Linked DNA regions of Homo sapiens. The protein of the gene in region 1 interacts with the protein of each later gene in a biochemical or structural test. Each region holds a gene or a part of one and is shown in the gene's direction. Other genes may lie near its edges. The genes, in order: MYCBP2, FBXO45 and NMNAT2.

The links.
Region 2: the proteins of MYCBP2 (region 1) and FBXO45 form a complex in vitro, tested with the Homo sapiens proteins (one study listed by BioGRID).
Region 3: of the proteins of MYCBP2 (region 1) and NMNAT2, one has a biochemical effect on the other in vitro, tested with the Homo sapiens proteins (one study listed by BioGRID).

What each region holds. Positions count from the first base shown.
Region 1 is NC_000013.11:77,324,095-77,331,891, reverse strand, and holds the start of MYCBP2 (E3 ubiquitin-protein ligase MYCBP2), read left to right. Parts: upstream 1-4,797; 5' UTR 4,798-4,903; coding exon of another isoform or gene 4,904-4,987; 5' UTR 4,988-5,116; coding exon 5,117-5,418; intron 5,419-7,797. Other genes in the region: uncharacterized LOC127898562, read left to right, coding at 4,904-4,987. UniProt on the Homo sapiens protein: Atypical E3 ubiquitin-protein ligase which specifically mediates ubiquitination of threonine and serine residues on target proteins, instead of ubiquitinating lysine residues.
Region 2 is NC_000003.12:196,564,736-196,571,686, forward strand, and holds the start of FBXO45 (F-box/SPRY domain-containing protein 1), read left to right. Parts: upstream 1-3,924; 5' UTR 3,925-4,249; coding exon 4,250-4,567; intron 4,568-6,951. UniProt on the Homo sapiens protein: Component of E3 ubiquitin ligase complex consisting of FBXO45, MYCBP2 and SKP1. Functions in substrate recognition but also plays an important role in assembly of the complex.
Region 3 is NC_000001.11:183,415,369-183,422,726, reverse strand, and holds the start of NMNAT2 (nicotinamide/nicotinic acid mononucleotide adenylyltransferase 2), read left to right. Parts: upstream 1-4,346; 5' UTR 4,347-4,459; coding exon 4,460-4,544; intron 4,545-7,358.

The sequences.
Region 1 (7,797 bases):
ACCCAAAGGAAAGAAAATCAGTATATAGAAGAGATGTCTGCGCTCCTGTTTGTTGCAGCACTGTTTACAATGGCCAAGATTTGGAAGCAAACTTATTGATGTAAGTGTCCATCACCCTATAAAGGGATAAAGAAAACGTGGTACACACATACACAATGGAGTACTATTCAACCATAAAAAGAATGAGATCCAGTCATTTACAATAGCATGGACTGAACTACAGATCATTATGTTAAGTGAAATAAGCCAGACACAGAAAGACAAACATCACATGTTCTCACTCGCTTGTGGGATCTAAAAATCAAAACAATTGAACTTATGGACATAGAGAGTAGGATGGTTACCAGAAGCTGGGAAGAGTCATGAGGAGTTTGGGGAGGGGAGATGGGGATGGTTAATGGGTACAAAAAAAAAAAATCAGAAAGAATGAATAAGACCTACTATTTGATAGCATAATAGGGTGACTATAGTCAATAATAACTTAATTGTGTATTTTAAAATAACTGAAAGAATGTAACTGGATTGTTTGTAACTCAAAAGATAAATGCTTGAGGGGATGGATACCTTATTCTCCATCATGTGCTTATTTCACATTGCATGCCTGTATCAAAATATCTCATGCATCCTATAAATATATACACCTTCTATGTACCCACAAAAAAATTTTAAAGTAATAACAAAATTTAAAAAAGATTAATCTAATAACTTATAAACTATACTAAAGTTTTCAAGGTTGAAATGCTATAGTTTTAAACTTTCTGTTTTTAGGACAATTATACTTTATATAACTTTCTACATCAGTTGTGAAAACATCCTCTAGGCTAAATGCATCACAACAATGAGATTTTGAAAGAATGTGATTTGCATTCAGATATATAGTATTGAATTCACATACTTAAAAAACATATACTAATATATTTTAGGATAATTTTTCACGGATGAAAATGTCAATATATGTCAATATATAACTTAGGATCCCTGGAACCTAAATTTTTGGATGTGGGAAAACTTGGACATATAATTTACATCTTTTAAAACTACCATGAATAAAAAAGAAAAACATTAACTCATCATGCTTACAAGTTACTGAATATCCCAAGGCCCTAAAAATATAGTTGTTTAAAGCATGAGGTTAAGATAGCCAGGGGATGCAATATGTAATTTATGTTTAAAATAATTTCGATAGCCATGTTGAATTTTTCCCTTCAGCTTGGAGTACTAAATATATTCTATGAAATATACTTTATTTTAAAGTGCAATATATTTGTCAAGAATGCACTATCTTATTACCCTTAAAAAGAGAAGGTCACTGAAGAGTAAAGCATGTCTTCACTCTTCAAGCCTAAGCTTTTTCTTTTTTTTTTCCCAAATTGTTCTCAGCTACCAATTTTGTTTTTAAATTCCCCAATACATTGTTGTACAAATCCAGGAAACAAACGCAGACTTTACCACAGCATTTTCAGCAGTCTCGATGTACCTAATAATATACATACTTCCTGTGTTTGTAGTCTTGTAGCTTTAGTACAATATTAACCCTTTAAATGAAACAACACTAATCTGTCCTCTTATATACACGTTATGGTTCCTGCCCTGTTATTTACTACATCAGCACGGGTAGCTTCCTTTAAAAACAAAATCGTTAAAGATGAGAGTAGGAAAAATGTAAATGTGATAAGAGTTCAAAAAACTGTGGTCCAGGTTTGCAATGTTAAGTGGAAAAGAACGACTAAATCTGTGATCACAAGGGGAAAGATGAAGCCATAGTCTTATTACATGGGCACAGGACAGAGAGATCTCTTTTGCGAAATGAGCATACCAACCACAAAGAATAAAACATACTACGCCCGTAATAAAATGGGCACAGGCAGGATTTGCCGTAGTTCAATGCTATTCTTTGAGGGCGAATGTGTCGTGGGTGAACTGCTGTCTAGCCCATTCCGACACCCAAGCCGCCCAGGCGGCCCCCACGCCCCCCGGCTGCAGCCCTCCCTGTACACACAAATGCACACACGCCCAGCCCGGCCGCTGGAGGAACTAAGATGGCAGCGCAGAAAGCACGGGGGCCGAGCTCGGTGGGGTGGGGAAAGAAAAGCAAAGCCCTCTGTGTTTTTTCATTCTGTATAGGTCCCCCTCTTTCCCCAAACACAAGGGCTGCGTAAGGCATTCGGTAGTAGAGCTCGCAGGAGCGGCGGGAGGGGACGCTTGCTTTGCATACTGCCAGAAACCCACGTCTCCGATCTGCAGCGACGGTTCAGGCGACCCTCGCGACTTGTGACCACACTCTCCTTCACGTCCCCTTGACAGTAGAAGTAAGGGTGACTCCAAATGCCTTTTTCTTTCTGGCATGCGCCCCACTCCCCCGCCATCCCAGGGGAGCCTTCCAAGTTGCCCAGCTGCCAAGGCGGTAGCTGTGGCAGTTGCAGGGACCGGGGAGCGCGCCGTGCGGAGGCAGGAAGAGGAGGAGGAGGAGAAAAAACGCTGCACTGGCTATCAATTTTGAGGAGAGCGACCGCTGCCGCTGCCGTGGAAGGAAACGCTGCCAACCGCAACAGAAATGCCACTCTCGGATACCTAAGTGAGCATGTGTGCGACTCTGCGCACGCCTAGTTGCGCAGCTCAATGACATCGGGCTTCTTAGCAAGTTATCCAGTTTCCGGGTTTTGAGTGTACCCATCAGGCTCCGTAGGGGCCTGTCTGGGACTGAACAGCAGTAAAGATTGAAGCGAAATTAATGAATGGTGGGAAGAGCCCGGAGACCAGGGCAGCCACGCGGGTCAATGTCCACTAGAAACTCTAAATGGGCAGTGACTGCACATTCCACCACCTGAGCCTGCGCTGTAAATGTTTTCTGTGCAAGCAACATTCATTCATTCAGCCAACATCTATTTCCCTCCTGTTCAGGGCTAGACCCTGTGCTAGGAGCCTGTGATGGTTGAACAGACACCATTGCTACCCTACGGAAAACCTAGTGTTTTGTTTAGTATGTGCTACCATTTGTGAAAATTCATGTGCCAAGTTGGACATCCTAGATCCTTTAAGTCCTCCCTCAATCTCATGTAGTGGGTATTCTTTTGAGCATTATTCAGAGGAGATAATTTGCCCAAAGCCAGACAAGTATTAAGTAGCAGAGTCAGGATCCAATTCCAGGGCTGTCTGATTTCAGAGCCTTTTAGCTACCCTGCTAGGTCTTGCAATAGTAATGGGCCCTCTCATTGCTTACCTGTCAGGCCTTAGAATTCTTAGAATTTAGCTGCCTCTACACCATTGTCTTGGTTCTCACTCCAGGGTTAGGGGCTGCCTGGTCAACACTGAGGTCTTTAACTGTGCTGAAGCATTAGGATAGAAATTTAGTCTAATAAATACTTACTGGATACCTACTACATGCAAAGTCCTGAAGTGGCTGAAGGAGACACAAAAGCAGCAAGCTCTGAAGGAACTTAGGTAAGGAAACAAGACAAATACAAAAACTTAACAGGGCTAATTACAGTACTAAAATACTATGATTCCACATGTCTTGTCCTTTGTTCCTATGTTTATCCCACTGCTAATTATCTTTAAAAAAACTAAATGAAATCCATCCATTATTTAAAGCTTCAGAAAAAAATGCATTGCTTTCAGCAACCTTCCACCCTAAAACTAGAATTAATTTACTTTCCTATTCCTTGTTGTTTGCACTTCTCAAACACTAAGGAGGATTTTTTAACATTTATTTTATTTTTTTTTAAGAGAAGGCCATCCGAAGAAGAGGCACAGATATAAGAACTAGTACATAGATGAAAGATACAGTACTGGGATGACAGAACTTATAAATTATTTTGTCAGGACTGTAAATTAGGAAACTCTTCAAATTGAGAGTCAAAGGATAAAACGTAGTAGGAATCAAAGTGCATTGGCACGTATATTTCTAGAGCATATACTTAGATGGGGTTCGTAGGTTAGCTTGGAACAAAGGACTGAGCAAATGTTACTTTTTTATAGACAACAACAAGATATGTGATGGATCTGACATTTTCAGACGCTATACAGTCTCCGTCACAATTATTGTTTCAGATCGCATTCAAGAATTATCTTTAAAAATGTAAGTTTGGGCAGAAAAAAATAAACCATTAAATGACCACTGCCAAGAGATAAAAGTGCACTCTTAGGTGAGTGAGGAGTCAATAAAAAAGAGTAATTTAAAAAATATTATTGCTCCGTTGAGAACAAGAATTTGGGAATGACTCTGGCTTGTGAATACTAGCCTATCTGTTATACTTTCACACACAAAATACTTTCACACACAAAAAAGAATGTGCTAGATTACTACCTGTCTTTGTAAGTAAAAGCTGTGTTAAACAAGCGTAAATCCTAATGACAAAAACCATATAAAATAAGATCGCTAAAGGCACTTCTAATTGGGATGGTTTTCTCTGCCTTAAACTCTGAATTAACCAGCACAATTCACAGTAAATCTTCCTGTTGGCAGCAGAGCCTTGGAGAAGAGGTAGCAGAAGAGCGTGCCACTCCTCCTCTGGCGATGGGCACGTTCCCCCTTGCTTTCTGGTCCTCGTTCTTCCACCTGGAGGGAACCTGAAGTCGAACGTCAGTAGCTGACAGCCTCCCCAGCACTTTCCTTACTCTTCTTCAAGCTGCCAGTAAAACCCGGAGAAGTGGACTACTTCAGATTCCGCACAACCCAACAGCCCCAAACCCAAAGCCCCGAGGCGGAGGGAGTGGTGGCGGAGAGGGGGTGGGGAGGAAAAGGGGCGGCAGTTACTGAGCATGTGCGAGGAGTGGCGCATGCTCTGTGAGGCCGGCAGCTTCCCATTGCGGGTAGCCCCGGCGGTGGTGGCGGTGGTAGCGGTGGTGGCGGCGGCAGTGGCGGCACCGCCTCCTCCTCACATTCCCGGGGTGGCGGGGTTAGATGAGCGGCCCCAGTAGCGGCGAGGGCGGCGCGGGGGGGAGGAGGAGAAGAAGGAGGAGGAGAAGGAGGTCGCTGTCTTTGTAGTCTCCCTGCTGCGGGAGCCAGAGGCCGCCGCCGGAGCCGTCGTCGTTGGAAAAGGGCTGTGTGTGCGCGCGCGTGTCTGCCCGCCCGGCCCGCGGGGACGAGGCGGCGGCGGCGGCGGCGGCGGCGAGGATGATGATGTGCGCAGCGACTGCCTCCCCCGCCGCCGCCTCCTCGGGGCTCGGCGGGGACGGATTCTACCCAGCCGCCACCTTCTCTTCCTCCCCGGCGCCGGGGGCGCTGTTCATGCCGGTTCCCGACGGCTCCGTGGCTGCTGCGGGGCTGGGGCTGGGGCTACCCGCCGCGGACTCCCGGGGTCACTACCAGCTGCTGCTGTCAGGCCGGGCCCTGGCCGACCGCTACCGGAGGATTTATACCGCTGCGCTCAATGACAGGGACCAGGGGGGCGGCAGCGCTGGACACCCAGCCTCCAGGTGCGTCCCCAGGGTGCCCTTCCTTGCGCCCCATGCCGCCCTTCCTTGCGCCCCATGCCGCGCGTGCACCCGCGTGTGTGTGTGCTTGCGTGTGTGTACCTGCGCATTTATTGAGCTTTCAGTCCGCTCTGGATGTCTGTTGGCAGGAGCACTTATCGAGATAGGAGGGTGCGGTGGCTGCAGTTTCTCGTGTGTGTGTGTGTGTGTGTGTGTGTGTGTGTGTGTGTGTGTGTCTGCCTGCCTATGTGGGGGGATAGTGAGGGGTGGTAGGGGAACCTGTGATGCTGGAAAAGGCGATGGTGCTGGTCGGCTGTGACACGTGTGTGTATCGTTGAGGTAGGAGGTGGCATGGGTAGAGAGGGTAAGAGGATGATACACGAAGAGAATTGCAACAGTGGCAAGGGAAGTGGCGTTTTCAGTGTCTCTGCCGCAATGTTATTTGCACGTGCCGCCTCTCCCATGACATTCCTTCCAGCCCTTTCCACCTCCCTTCAATCTGCCTTTCACCAAGAGGAGTCATGGTATAGATTGGTTGAGTTTTGGATAAGCAGGCCCGAGGGATAGGCGTGAGGTTTGCTTTAAAAAGATTTATGAATAAGGGACGCAGATGGAGATCTGTGTGGATGCGAAAGGTGTCTGATAGAGATTTTTAGAGCTGTACTTTGATAACCGGGCCTTTTGGTCTTCTAGAAATGAGGTTGCAGTTACTCTTGTGATCTGATGTCCCATCGGCCATTTCTCTTCATCCTCTGTTCGATTTCCTCTGTTACTTACAGGCTTTAGAGTAGAGAGGGTTTTGTAGGGAAAAGGGGAAAACTGCAGAACTTCAGAATATGACAGCTGGTACAGCGTTCAACTGCCACTAGCTAGAAAATCTGAATAGCGCGTAGATTTGTCTCTTTTACTTGGGTTGGCTACACCTTCAGCTTCCTTGATGTAGATGTTCAGTTGGTTTCATTTTCTTTTTCTTAAAATGTGGGTGCTTTTTTTTGCTGAGGGCTCTCCTATTGTTTTCTTTTCCATGCCCTTACATGCCGCATACCCTGAAGGTTGGTGACTGACTTGTTTCACCAGCTTTGACAGTGGTAATTGGGAGTTGGCTTCATCTTTTTTTTCCCACAGCTTCTTGCAGTACATGGGGAAAACATAGTAGGAAACTGTCAAAATGAGTTAAAGAGTTTACTGTTATTTATTGAATGTGCAATTTATTAGGCAATTGTTAGGTGTCTTTTTCTCCCATTATGAAAGGGACGAGGCTGTAAGTCAGGTATTTGTAGCTTATCACTAGGTATCATGGCTTATCTGTTGGAGACAGTTGTAAAGCTGGAGCTTTGTTCACACTTTTTCTAGGTTAACCAGTTTTCTCATGTCTGTGATTGTTTACAGGATTGGGCACAGCAGTAGTTTTACCATATGGATGTAAACGTGTGTAACTATTTTTTGCTATCTGAACTGAAGGCCAGAATGGCACAAGTCTGTTTCTTGCTAATGCTTTTGAAAATAGCACAAAACTACGTGAGACAGTTTGCCCTGATAATTAGGTATAATTTTGATCTGTAAATCTCTAAATTATGGCACCGCAGGAACATCTTTACAAACTCCTCTCAAAGAATTTAAATTTATTTTGTGTATGGTTTCCAGACTTATGCAATAATTTTTGACTTGTATATTCCTGTTTTGACTTCCTACTACTAGTGTAATATGATTTCTGTGTATCTAGAACTATATTAACGGTTTTAGACAAAATTAACATAGATTAATCATATAACATTTGTGAATGATTTTTTAGCCCTTGGTCCATTTTTGTACAAGCCGTCAATGAAAAGTAATGAAGAATTAGTTCAAGTATTTCAAGAACTACTCATGGAAATCAGCATTATGTTATGATATTGCCTGCTAATGCTTGTTCAACGCAACATTATTGTTTATTTAAGTTCACATTATTTTATTACAAAAAGTAGCCTGCAACTACTCTATTGATGATTTGATTAAGAATTAAATCACATTTCTTATTAAAGATGTTGAGGAAAGTAGACTTGGGGTTTCGGCTCTGAATGAATGATAGAATTATTTGTATAGGGACACAAGTTAAAGGAGAAGATGATATCTTTTAGAGAGACTGAATGGAGCAATAATAGAGAATGAAGCTCTAGTGAGCATCAGGTTTAAAGGTGTGAGAGAAAGGAGACAGTGAAGGAAACGGAATCAAAATTAAGAAGAAAATCATGAAACAGTAGCCTCTGTGGCTCTAGGAGAGTGGATTGAAAATTCTCAGAAGTGGTAAATGTTGAAGAAAGTGAGAACCGTTTTCAGGTCATTGATAACTTTTGAGGAAGTGGTCAGAATAGAGGGATGTGGTGAGGAGTGAATGGAATGTGT
Region 2 (6,951 bases), on another chromosome or scaffold:
ACTTTGAAGTCAGGAAGTCTGTACTCTAGAGCATTAAGATTTGCTGATATTTGTGTGCATACAGGTTTTGGATCCCAGCTGGGATTTTAGGTTTTCTCTGAAACAAGAATGAGGCAAGGTTTCTAGTGCTCCTGTTTCTCCATTACAAATCTACCCACAGGAGAGCCAAATAAATGCTGACTGACAGACAAAAGTTTTAGCAGGTTTTCTTCCTAATTTAATTCTTTTCTAGAAAAGATTAACTCAATCTTCAAGGTTCATTCAGTTAAGTTTTGCTCCGAAGTGTGAGAAGACAGGCAATAAACGAATTTTGTCCTTAAAGGGATTATTATAAAGACTACAGTTCCTATAAATTTTTCCACAGTGGAACCAGTAGTAACTCTTGTTCTATTAGTCTCACAAGACCCCAAGAACACTTTCATCTTATTAAACTCTACACACTAAACTCCTACTCTCTAAATCACATAGATAATATTTACTGATCATTTATCTAGTCAGAAAAATAAATAACTGTTACTGGGAATGTTAAAAAAAAAAAAAAGGCAGGGGCCAGGGGAGGCTGGGCGTGGTGGCTCACGCCTGCAATCCTAGCACTTTGGGAGGCTGAGGAGGGCGGATCACTTGAGGTCAGGAGTTCAAGACCACCCTGGCCAAGATGGAGAAACCCTGTCTCTACTAAAAATACAAAAATTAGCAGGGTGTGGTGGTACGTGCCTGTAATCCCAGCTACTCGGGAGGCTGAGGGCTTGAACCTGGGAGGTGGAGGTTGCAGTGGTGAACTGAGATTGTGCCACTGCACTCCAGCCTGGGTGAGAGTCGGGGTGAGGGGGCAGGGGGGAGTTTGGAAAGCCCCAGAAACAGAAATCCATAAACTCTGAGGCTATTAATTTTAGTCAATCAAGATTTATTATGCAAACTATTGATCAGCGATTCAACTAGAGCCTCCAAAATTGTTTACTTAGTCTATAAAACTAAAATGATTTGTTATTATTTGAAACACACCAAAGAACACTATGAAAAAGTTAATCAGATTGCTGTGATAGAAGGGTAGTGGGAAAAAATGTAATTAAAGTTGGGTTAAATCAAAACAATTTTTCAGAAATGAGTTGGCAAGCCACTGTTTCTTGCTTTTCTATGACTGCAACTGGAAAGCCTGGCAGAAAGAGGTGAAGTGTCACCATCCCCACATTCACGTATCAAGTCAACAAGCTTCTCTTTTCCTATGGAGTTGCCTAAAGCGTTAAGCACAGCAGTTAATCATATCCTACTGTAAATTACTTTAATTAGATAATAGATCACTTCCTTCTAATACCTAAAGAAATCACACAGAGTGGGTGAGGGAAAGGTGAGTTTTTTCTTGTGTTTTTTTTTTGAGACAGTATCTCCCTCTGTTACCCATACTGGAGTGTAGTGGCCCAATCTCTGCTCACTGCAACTTCCACCTTCGGGGCTCAAGTAATCCTCCCACCTCAGTCTCCCAAGTAGCTGGGATTACAGGCATGCACCACCACGCCCAGCTAATTATCTTATTTTTTGTAGAGACAGGATTTCACCATGTTGCCCAAGCTGGTCTAACTCCTGAGCTCAAGCAATCCACCCACCTCGGCCTCCCAAAGTGCTGGGATTACAGGCATGAGCCACTGTGCCCTGCCAGGTGAGTTATTTTGAGAGCATTTTTTTCTTTTTTTTTTTTTTGAGACAGAGTTTCGCTCTCGTCGCCCAGGCTGGAGTGCAATGGTGCAATCTCGGCTCACTGCAACCTCCGTCTCCCAGGTTCAAGCGATTCTTGTGCCTCAGCCTCCTGAGTAGCTGGAACTACAGGCATGCACCACCACGCCCGGTTAATTTTTGTATGTTTGGTAGAGATGGGGTTTCACCATGTTGGCCAGGCTGGTCTCAAACTCCTGACTGCAGGTGATCCGCCCGCTTCGGCCTCCCAAAGTGCTGGGATTCCAGGCGTGAGCCACGGCACCCGGCCGAGAGCATTTTTTAAAAGGGTGAAGTGCCACAGCCGGCAGTTCTCATCAGCCAGAGCGCAGAATGAGAGTACTGAACATGGGGAAGGGGCTTGGTGGGGTGGGTGATGAGCAGGTGAAAGATTTGTAAAAAAGAAAAGGAGGGGTTGAGAAGGGTAATCTTACTTTGAAATTCTACCTGGGGCGCTCAGGAGACGGTCTGCCGTTGAAAGTCACCTCAGCGGCTGGACTAGATTAGTAAGAATGACAACATCGCATCCTTCAAAGGCTCTGCCTCGGCTGCACTGAGACACGATAAAGGCCAGTCTTTAAAAACTGAGTGATCTCTAAACACTCTGCACTAGTCATACCACCACCGTCCCGTTCAAGAGTCTGTGCCTCTAAGGCTGTTCATTCTGTCTAGTTCATGATCCCTTTCTCAGATGGATCAACTCTGCTTATCCTTGAAGACTTCAAAGAAATTAGTGAGAGACAGTCACCATCACCAGAGTCAGCACAGGTCAACTTTTCTCTACAGGCTTGGGGTTTCTGAAGTTGGACTTGATGTGGAGAAGCTGGATAGCAACCAAAATGATTGAAGGGCTGTGGCGCTGGCACTGGTAAGAATGAAAAGAATTAGGGTTACTGGACTTGGTGAAAAAGACATGAGGAGAAGGGACAGGCAAATAATAATCAAACACCATGAATCAGAGGGTAGGGAAGGTAGCCACCGTTCCTTTGCTTTTACTAGAGACTAAGAAATGGATTATACATAGCAAGAAGCTTCAGAAAAGATTTCTTACTACATAAAGGTTCCAAGACATTGGAGTTGACCAAGGGAGTCTGTGAACCCTATTATTTTAATTACTCAGCTCATGGAGTTGTTTTGAGGATTACGTATATAAAAATCTGCGTAAATGACGTAGTATACAGTGCCTGGTTCACACCGTGGCTCAAATGATGGTTATTATTATTCTCTTACTAAGCATGCTTTAAAGGCTGTCGGAAAACTTTGGGGCCACCTAGGAAATCGTAGTATAATCAAATAATGCTGAAATTCTTGTGTGTGTGTGTGTGTGTGTGTGTGTGTGTGTGTGAGGTAGGGGCTCACTCTGTCGCCCAGGCTGGAGCACAGCAGGGCGATTACGGTTCACCTCAGCCTCGACCTCCCGGGCTCAGCCTCCCAAGTAGCTGGGACCAGAGGCGCACGCCACCACCCTCGGCTAATTTTTCTATTTTTTTGTAGCGACACTGCCTCGCAATGTTGCCCAAGCTGGGATGCTGAAATTCTTCCCCTTCCAAGAATCCATCTATAATTATAGCCTCCACGTCATTCTCCCTATTGGAATGTTTAATTGACTAAAACTACATTGCCTTCATCTGCTTACTAAGCGGTGGATCCAGTAAAGACCACATCTTGTCCAAAAGACGGCAGCACTTAATTAGCGCTCAAATGGCACTCGAACGTTTGGGCGAGGGGGTGTTCAGTCGCAGCCACCTTACTTTGCGAAGGCACACAGGGACAGACGTTCGCTAAGTGCCGATACTTAGGGAGAACGAGAGGGCCTGACCAGGTAAAGACGGCCTCCGCTGCCCAAGCTACACAAAAAGGTTGGGGAGCCAGGACCCGGCAAGCAAGGAGAGAAAAGTTTCATGCGTTGAGCTGGAGTCTGAAGCAAGGACCTAACGGACACAGGGAAACGTCACAGGAAAGGGAGCCCAGGAGAGCAGACGCGGAGCCACCAGACCAGAAAAAGGAAAAAGCACTGGAAAACAGCATCGAAGTCACCGGAAAGCAGCATCGAAGCCACCGGCGCCAGCCTCATACCTGCGCTTCCCGCTCCCCTCCTCGGCGCCTAGTGATAACCTCACCCGCCGGCGCCCAATCCCGTCGAGCGTCAGGCGTGAGGCGGCGCAGCCAAACAGTCACATCCGGGGCCGAGAGGAACCGCGAACGAGCTGGGCGTGCGCCCTTGCTTCGTGCCCTCAACCCGCATGGCGGAGCCGCTGGCGCGCCGCGGAGAGGCCGGGCGAGTCGGGCGGTTTCGGCGCCCGCGCTGAGCCGCGGAGGAGGGGCGGAGGACGCCCCTGCAGCCGGTGCGTCTGCCCTCAGTGAGGCGGGGCGCGCGGCGGACGCCCCCGGGCAGGGGCGGGAGTGGTGGAGGCGCCGGCGGTTGGCACTGACAGGGGCGGTGAGCGAGCCGCTCCGGTCTCCGGGCGAGGCTTGGCCTTCCGAGCAGAGACGGCGGGAAGCGGCGGCGGCAGCGGCGGCCCTAGGGCCGGCTGGTGAGGCGATGGCGGCGCCGGCCCCGGGGGCTGGGGCAGCCTCGGGCGGCGCTGGCTGTAGCGGCGGCGGCGCGGGCGCGGGCGCGGGCTCGGGCTCTGGGGCCGCGGGGGCCGGGGGCCGGCTGCCCAGCCGGGTGCTGGAGTTGGTGTTCTCTTACCTGGAGCTGTCCGAGCTGCGGAGCTGCGCCCTGGTGTGCAAGCACTGGTACCGCTGCCTGCACGGCGATGAGAACAGCGAGGTGTGGCGGAGCCTGTGCGCCCGCAGCCTGGCAGAAGAGGCTCTGCGCACGGACATCCTGTGCAACCTGCCCAGCTACAAGGCCAAGGTGAGAGAGCCCCGGGCCACACCGCTGCCCCCAGTCCCGCTCCCCGGCGTCGTTCGCGGTGTTTCTCATCCGAGCTTCTGAGTCAGAAGCTTCGCCTCACCAGCCCGCCTTTCCACGGCTCCAGTCAGTATCTTCCTCACCTCCCCCCAAGATAAAGATTCTCTTTTCTTTGGATCGAAGTTCTGCTCCTTAACCCATCCCACTTCCGTGATCCACTTTTCAAACAACTAGGTAGTTTGCCTCACTCATTCAACTTTTGACAGTTTTCCCCGTTAAAGACAGACCACCACTCTTGTACCTTTTAATGCCCTCATCCTACTTTTCTCCCCGGCCTCCAGATAGACTTCATTATATTAAATAATCCCGGCCACCTTAACATGGGCTTAGTTTCTAAGTTTCTAAGTTTCTAGTTTGCTTTCACTCCACGTTTATCTCATCTTTTCCAAGCTCTGATTTTTAACCATTTGTTTTCATTATTTTCCCCCAAGTTCTCTTTAGTTCCCTCCACTATATTGGAGGCTTACAAGTGAGTGTAGTTCTAGTCATCCTGCTCACTTACAAGATACAGGCTTTTATAGAACGTCCACGGGCACCACCTAACATACTGCTTTGTCCTGCTGTTATTGGCTGTTTCCTTGCTAACTTTTTAATAGTTCCACATTGATGGTGTCTCTCTTTTTCTATTTGTCATCTAACGTGCTGATTACAGTTTCGCTGCATCCTTCCTGCATATTCCGCCCGCCTTCATATACAAAATAAAAATGTCAAGGAACAAGTTGTGGTACGGCTGAAAGGACTCTCAGGCCGAATAAACAAAGGGTCTTGGTCTTGAGTTGAGTTGAATGGTTAACAGCTATTCAGTATAGCAGTCAATCAAGATCATATATAAGAGAAGATAAAGTCTGATTGCAATGTGTTAAACATAATGAATGCATTAGTAACTAAAACGATAACATCCCCCCCTTTTTTTTTTTTTTTGAGACGGAGTGCAATGGCGTGATCTCGGCTCACCGCAACCTCCGCCTTCCAGGTTCAAGCAATTGTCTTGCCTCAGCCTCCCGAGTAGCTGGGATTACAGGCATGCGCCACCATGCCCGGCTAATTTTGTATTTTTAGTAGAGTTGTGGTTTCTTCTTGTTGGTTAGGCTGGCCTCGAACTCCCGACCTCAGGTGATCCGCCCTCCTCGGCCTCCCAGAGTGCTGGGATTAGAGGCGTGAGCCACCGCGCGATAACACCCCCTTTTTAATGCTAGCTTGCCAACAGGGGTCGGAGTAAGAAGTAAAAATTTTTTTTTCATGTGAAGCATGTAAAATTTATACTTATGTAGTAAAACCGGTTTTAGTTATAGAAGATAGGGAACATTGCCATTAAATATGTAAACTATCAAGTTGTTTCTCTTTTCTTTTTTCTTTTTTTTTTTTTTTTTGAGACGGAGTCTCGCTCTGTCACCCAGGCTGGAGTGCAGTGGCGGGATCTCAGCTCACTGCAACCTCCGCCTCCCGGGTTCACGCCATTCTCCTGCCTCAGCCTCCTGAGTAGCTGGGATTACAGGCGCCCGCCACCACGCCCGGCTAATTTTTTGTACTTTCAGTAGAGACAGGGTTTCACCGTGTTAACCAGCATGGTCTCAATCTCCTGACCTCGTGATCCGTCGCCTTGGCCTCCCAAAGTGCTGGGATTACAGGCGTGAGCTCATGCGCCCGGCCTCAAGTTGTTTTTCTATTAAGCGAAATAACAATAATTTACTAGGACTGTTTGTGCGTGGTGGCTATTCAGTGGATACTGGTTGTAATTTATATAGGTGAGTACAGACGATTGGAATTTTGTCCTACTTTGATAAATGTGTCGGTTTCATAAATTTTATTTAGTTTTTATTTTTCTGTAAAGTTTATTGTTTTTACTTATTTTAAACTAGGAGTTTTTGTTGTTGTTTTTGAGACAACAAAACAACAAAACTCTGTCGCCCAGGCTGCAGTGCAGTGGCACAATCATAGCTCACTGCATCCTCGACCTCCTGAGCTCAAGGGATCCTCCTTAGCTTAGCCTCCCGAGTAGCTGGCACTTCAGTCATGTGCCACCACACTGGCTAATTTTTTATTTTTTAGAGACACGGGGTCTCACCTTGTTGCCTAAGCTGGTCTCAAACTCCTGGACTCAAGCGATCTTCTTGCCTCAGCCTCCCAAAGTGCTGGGGTTACAGGCATTAGCCACTGCACCCAGCCTAAATTAGGAGTTGTTGTTTTGATAATTGACTTGTAATAGAAATGTTCACATGATTCAAGATTCATATTATAATATGTAATAGATAATGTGTTCGTGTGAGTCAAGCTTCAATAGAAGCAAAATGATATCAAGCAAAATGTTTTCCTTTCATCCTTGTCGC
Region 3 (7,358 bases), on another chromosome or scaffold:
GAAATTATTCCTCACTGGAGGCTGGGAAGTCCAAGATTAAGGCACCAGCAGATTCGGTGTCTGGTGAGGGCTTGATGCCTGGTTCATAGATGTGTCATCACATGGTAGAAGGAACAAATGAGCTCCCTTGAGCCTCTTTTAATCCCATTTATGAGGGCTTCCAGCTCATGATCTAGTCACTTCTCAAAGGCCCTATGCATTAGTATGTTCTTGCTCTGCTTTAAAGAAATATCTGAGACTAGGTAATTTATAAAGAAAAGAGGTTTGATTGGCTCATGATTCTGCAGCTTGTACAGAATGCATAACGGCTTCTAGGGAGGCCTCAGGAAATTTTTACACATGGTGGAAGGCAAGGGGGAAGCAGGCAGGACTTACATGGCTGGAGCACGAGGAGTGGGTGGAAAGAGATGCTATACACTTTTAAACAACTAGATCTCATGAGAACTCACTATCAAGACAACACCTACATGGGGGATGGTGTTAAACCATGAGAAATTGCCACCATGACCCAATCACCTCCCACTAGGCACCACCTCCAACGTGGGATTACAATTCAACATGAAATTTGGGTGAGGACACAGATCCAAACCATATCACCCTACCTCTTAAGACCATGACATGGGGGATTAGGTTTCAATATATGAATTTTGGGGGACAGAAACATTCAGACCTTAGCACATGGTAAGGTATCTCTCAGTCTGTTCTCCAATCTCTGCTAAGAAGTCCTATTCTCTCAATTATGAACTAGCTATCATTTATTGATCATCTACTATATGCTAGGTGTTCTACATACATTACCTCTAATCTTCACATCTCTGCAGCTTGGTGGGTATTGTTTTCCTCATTTTACAAATATGGCCAGTATAGCATAGCAGGGAAACAAGATGAGAGAGTAGCCTTGTATCAAGAGTAGGGCCTTCAATCAAAACTGTCAGGGTTTGAATCTGGTTCCATACATGCTAGCAGTCTCAACCCAGACCAGTTACTTAATTTCCCTGTGCCCCTGTAGGCTTATCTCTAAGATAGAATAAAATCATACAAACTCACAGAGTTATTGTGAGTGTTAAAGAGTTAACATCTGTAAACATTTTACAGTGCTTGGGCTTCTAGTAACACCCAATGAATGTTAGCTACTATTATTAATTTGGTGTGCCCCAGGGTTGAAACTGAGGACCTCCTTTTCACTCTGTATATCTGTTTCTCCCTAGGTAACCTCATCTAGTCCCATGACTTTAAATATAAACTACACTGAAGACTCCAAAATTTATATCTTCTGCCAAACATACTTTTCAAACGTTGAGTCACCTCATGTCACTTCTCCACTCAAAACCCTCGAATGGCTTCCCATCCCTTCTAAGTGAAAAAACCAGAGCCTTAATTAAGACCTACAAGGCCCTGTATGATCTGTCCTTCTTTTTGGACCTGTCTTTGAGTGCTTTCCACATTCTTTGTTTTCTCCAGTCACCTTGGTGTGCTTGTCAAACACCCCCAAGCACTCTTAGTCTTCCGATCCTTTATACTAGCAGTCCTGCCTGGTATATTCTTCCCTAGATATTCAAGTGACACATACCTTCACTTCATTTAGGTCCCTGTTCAAACACTGTCTTATCAAAGAGGCCATCTTTGACCCCTGCAAATAAAAGAGGATTTTCTTTCTTTCTCTTTTCTTCACATTCTGCTTTATTTTTCTTTATGGTACTTTTTACCATTATGTTTATTCATTTGTTTATGGTCTGTTGTTTTCCCCTGGAATGTGAGCTGTATTAAAGCAGGGACTCTGTTTTGTTCACAGCCCCTAAATCAGGGCTTGGTGCATGGCTGACACTCAATAAATATTGATTGCTTAACTATAATTATGTCAATTGCCTAGCTAGTGAGTCTCAGTTTCATACCTGAGTCAACCTCCCTTTACAAGCTCTAGCTCTTTTTAAGCCACTAATCTGCATATCATATTAGGGAAGATACAAACCCCATTATAAATATATATCAGTTCTTAGGAGTCTTCTATTTAAACTAGAAATTTTATGCGTATTAGGGTTGATTTGCTATTCATCATAATTTAACAAATATTTACTCCACACCTACCACATGCTCTTGGATAAGAAAAAACACAGTGACCAACTCACTAATATGGGGTGGAAATTTATCCAAGAAACTTGAAGCCCAGGATAGGTACGTATTTGTACTTGTCAATCTCTAAGTTAAGAATTATTGGCTCTGGCTGGGTCTGTGGCCCATGCCTTTAATCTCAACAGTTTGGGAGGCTGCCGTGGGTGGATTGCTTGAGGTCAGGAGTTCAAGACCAACCTGGGCAATATAGTGAGATCCCATCTCTACAAAAAACACGAAGAATTAGCTGGACATGGTGGCAAACACCTGTAGTCCCAGCTACTTGCAAGGCCGAAGTGGGAGGATTGCTTGAGTCCAGGAGATCGAGGCTGTGGTGAGCTGAGATCATGCCACTGCATTCCAGCCTGGGTGACAGAGTGAGATCCTGTCTCAAAAAAAAAAAAAAAAAAAAAAAGAATTATCCTCTATATCCAATTCATCTGCAAAGAATTATTGGTTCTTTCTGTTGTATAAGCATAGAACATCTATCTTCCCCTACCATTCTCAATTTCAGTCTACTCATTGTTTAAGCCAAATTTCAAAATCTATAAAACATATCCTGAGACCATCTACTTCTCGTTGCTCCCGTCTCTATAAACCCTGGTCTCAGGACAACTCCACTTGCCTAGGCTACCAGATTTTCCTAAATGCTTTCCTTGTCTTCCCATTTGCCCTCCCTTTCCACCCAGCAGCCAGAGTGATCCTATAAAAATGTAAATTACATATTATTCCCCTGCTTAAAAGCTTCAGTGGCTTCCTTTTGTTATTATTCCACTTAGAAAAGTGTCTAACTCTTGCCCTAGTCTACAAGCCCCATTTGATCTGGCCCTGATCACCTGCTGCTCAGTCTTCTATCATTTTTCCCCTTGCCCATACTTTCTAGCATCACTGGCCTTTCATTTCTATGAATACAGTAAGCCCTTCCCTGTCCCTGAATACGTGAGCTAGCAACTACTCCTGTCGCTCAGGTCTCACTGAAATGTCACCTCCCCAGAGAGGCCTTCTCAGACTACTTGATTCGTCCTCTCTTCTCCACTCACTCTCTGCTCTGTCAGAGAGTAAATTGCATTCACTTACTGTGCATTGCACAATTGCCATCTAATATTTATTGTCTATCTTCCTCCAGTAAAATGAAGACAGTGACTTTGCTTCACCAGCAGGGTTTATAGCAATACTTGACACATAATGAGCCCTCAAGAAACACTTGTTAAATGGTAAGTCTTTGTCTCAACTTTGGTAGCTTATGGAGGATCCCCATCATTTTCTTTTTTCTTTTTTTTTGTTTCGAGATGGATTCTCGCTGTCGCCCAGGTTGGAGTGCAGTGGTGCGATCTTCGCTCACTGCAACCTCTGCCTCCCAGGTTCAAGCAATTCTCCTGCCTCAGCCTCCTGAGTAGCTGGGATTACAAGCACTCGCCACCATGCCCGGCTAGTTTTTGTATTTGCTTTTTAGTAGAGACAGGGTTTCACCGTGCTGGCCAGGCTGGTCTCGAACTCCTGACCTCGTGATCCGCCCGCCTCGGCCTCCCAAAGTGCTGAGATTACAGGCATGAGCCACCGCACCCGGCGGATCCCCATAATTTTCTAATACAGTTTTAGTAACTCTGCCCCCTTCATGTTCTCTCAAACGGATAGCATTGCTTCGCCCACGAAAAGGATCAGTATTGCAGAGGAAGGGCTTAGATCACCCCTATCTCTCTGCAGCCAGCAGATCAAGATTTGGACTCAACTCAATAGTTTGGAATCATCAGATAAAGGAAAAAGGAAAAGCAGAAATGAATACTACTGAAATAAACAATGGTCATTTCTCACTTAAAATTTTGAGGAAGAGAGAAAGAAAAAATACCTTAAGATCAAACATTTTTTAACTTGGAGATGTTAGAGAAAGTAGGGGGGACAGAAAAATGTTAGAATGAGGAGGAAAACTGAATCAAGATGAGGCAAGAGGCAGAAAGAGCTCACACCATGCTGTGGGCTCTTGGTTCTGAGCTTGGATACCACGTCTTGCCTTCTGGATAAACTCTAAGGAAGACAGTGATGGAGTGAAGTGGGCTGGGGGCGATAGAGAGGATGGGGTGGGGCACCAGGCGAGAGATGCGAAGGAAGCCAGAACGAAAAGAGAGCGACCGAGGAGAGAAGAGAGCAGAGCAATACAAAAGCAGCCTCGGATCTAGCCGGAGCTGCAAGCGTTAAGGGGAGGCGGAGAGTGACGCGGTTTGCGTCTGGAGCGGCTCCTTGGAGTCCACAGCATCCACCGCCGGAGCCTCGCCTTCCTTTCTCCCTCTGCAGACACAACGAGACACAAAAAGAGAGGCAACCCCTAGACCACCGCGAAGGACCCATCTGCACCATGACCGAGACCACCAAGACCCACGTTATCTTGCTCGCCTGCGGCAGCTTCAATCCCATCACCAAAGGGCACATTCAGATGTTTGGTGAGTCCTCCCGCCCACCTCTGGAAGCCGCTTCCGCTCCTCTCCTTTCCCAGGCACCTGTGTTTTCCAGGGCGATCGAACGGGAAGGCGTGTGCCCCTTCGGAGGGGTGGGCCGGCTCATCCAGCTGGTGGAGGTCGGCCCCTTCATTTTGGACTCAGGGGAGGGTACGCAGACTGCGTTTCCGAGGCGTCACTTGCCGGGGCCAGACCCGGCTCGCAGGGGGCCAAAGGTGGGGGATGGGAGGGGACTAGAGATGAGTATCATTTGGGGCTGGGCAGGGGTTCGAGATACCAGAACTGGAGTGTGGCGGTGCGGTGGTTCGGCTACCAGGCTGGCGAAGACCGGGATGGGGGCAGAGGTTGGGGCGCCGAGTAGGGGAGGAAGGGGCTGGAGATAACGTGCTGTTTGTTTAGGATGGGCCGAAAGCTCGAAGGAGTTAAATCATGTATGTGCCTGGGATTCGCAAACACACTCGCGCCCGACACACCGGTGACAGGGGCTGGGGCTTCAAGATTAATTTCGGATTTGGCTGGTGATTCTGGGCGGCCCAGGGACCAGTGTTTGGGAATTGTGGGCCGTGTATTGCCCGCGCGAGGTGGATGCTGAGTGAATAGGGAGGGGGCCCTTTTCCGCCTAGGTTCGGCCTCAGGGACCCGCTGCCTAGGACGGGGAGGGGGCCGGGCGGAGGCTGCGGGAGGCCCTGCGCGAGCCGGAGCCGAAGGATCGGGGCCCAAGTTGGCTGAGGCTCTGCCCAGGGTGGCGATGGCACTCGGAAGGCTTGAGGCGTCTAGTGTGTGTACGAATGTGCGAATGACTGTGTGTGAGTATATGCGTGTGCGTGTTGGGGGGAGGGGACTTATCGCGCGTTTGTTTCTTAGAAGCTTTGGGGCGTGGAGTCAGAGAGAGCGAGCGGGGGCATCCGGCTGGCTGGTTCGGGGTCCAGCAGCGGTAGGGGAAAGGTGATCGATAGATGCCTATTGGAGGTCTCGCGCCACCGGTGGGAAGCCACGCGGCTTCGCAGCTGCTCGTAGGACTCAAAGGCGTGGGGCATGAGCGTTTAGACACGGAAAGAGGGACGCGGAGGTCACTTTAGAAGCAGGAATTGAGAAGTTAGAAGTTGGGGGTGCTTTTTCTTGAAACTGAGAGAAGCGAGGAGTAGGGAAAAGCGAGTGGGCTGGGATGGATGAGAGAGCGTGTGGGAGGCCCTGACCTGGCCCGCCAGCAAGGCGCTCTCCAGAGGCGGCGGTGCTGAAATGCAGGGCGCGCCGGAGCTGGATGCGGGCACACGTGTTTATCCGGAGCCTGAGGACTGCGCGAGCCCTCCTAGGGAGGTTTAGTGAAAACCACACCACAGCGGTAAAGACAGGGCGAGGTGGCTTAGGCTAAAAATATTCATCTTTAAACTTAAAAGGTGCGCTGAACTGGGCTCGCTTGTTAAAAACCTCATGGAAAGAATATAGAACTACTTTGAGCAAAGGGCAAATCGGGTAGGCATATCTACACGATAGAAGGAGGGAGGCTGAGAGATAGCCATCCCTTCTTCACCATTCCTTCAGCTTTCAAAAGTCTTTTATTAAGAACCAATGCCAACTTGCCTGTTAAATAAGGACTTCTGTTCCAGCATCAGGGTAGACAAGAGCATGTCATCAGTCTTCTAAGGACTATCAGTGCCCTAAGAACACTCCACTTTCACTTTCCTTTGATGCTGGTGTCTTCATCCCTTTCCTTCTTTTCCTGTCTGTCCATATGTCCTCTAGCACTTTATGTTGATGCGCTTTACTCCTCTCCCTTGACCAGGCAATGATGGGTTTTCCTTTGGAACCAAGAGAAAGGAGGAGTAGGGAAGAGCCATTGGGCTGGGGATGAAACTCTGTGGCTCTAAGAATCTTTGATGACCCAGCAGGTACTGCTCCTTTCTTCCTGAAGCTAGGAAATCCCAGTTGTTTTAGATTACAAGAGAAACAGATTTGGATTGAGAACCAAAGATTCTGTCTTGTAGCTGAAGATTCTTTGTTAACAGTAATAAAGGCTTTTGTTAAGCGAATGCTGACCTGCCAATTCTCCATGAGCTTCAAGGATAGACTATGTGGAAATAGACCTGAGTTGCAGTGGAAGGGTTTAGATATAGAAAGGTGAAAGGAGACTTTTGGCAGTAACGATTATTTACTTAGTATAAGAACTGAGGACCAGGGCAGAATGTGAACAAAGTCCTTTGCATGTCCATTAAAGTATAATTCAGAGAGTAATACAAAAAAAGGATATAATATGTTCACTCACTATGGCTTTAAGGAGTTTATTACCTAATGAAGAATTTAGCACATAAACAGGTGAAAATGAGGCAAGAATAAGAACACAAAATACACATTCAACTATTTTTGGTAGAATGTCTTATTGGAATCTTTGAGCTCTGGATAAATTTTATAATTTATTTTTGTAGAGCAGTTCTGGTTAACAAAGCCATTTCATCTATGTTATGTTACTTATTCCTGTTAAAAACCTTATAAGAAAAACATTATTACCCTTATTTTACAAATGAGAAACTGACAGAAGCCAAGTGACTTATGAACACACATGGAGAATGGGTGGCACTGAGACTTGAGCCTCATGTTCCTGATTCCTCTTGCAGAGGCCTTCATACTGCAACAAAGGCTGGAGGAAGTGCCCGCTCATCTTCTGACTGCATAATTCCATGAACACTCTATTTTCATGAACCATAAACTAAGAGAATTAAACTGGCCATCAACTAAGTGAGATTCATATATGTGCTTTTCCTTAAGATCTTTGTCTCATGTCTAAAGAAACCAGTTATTTAT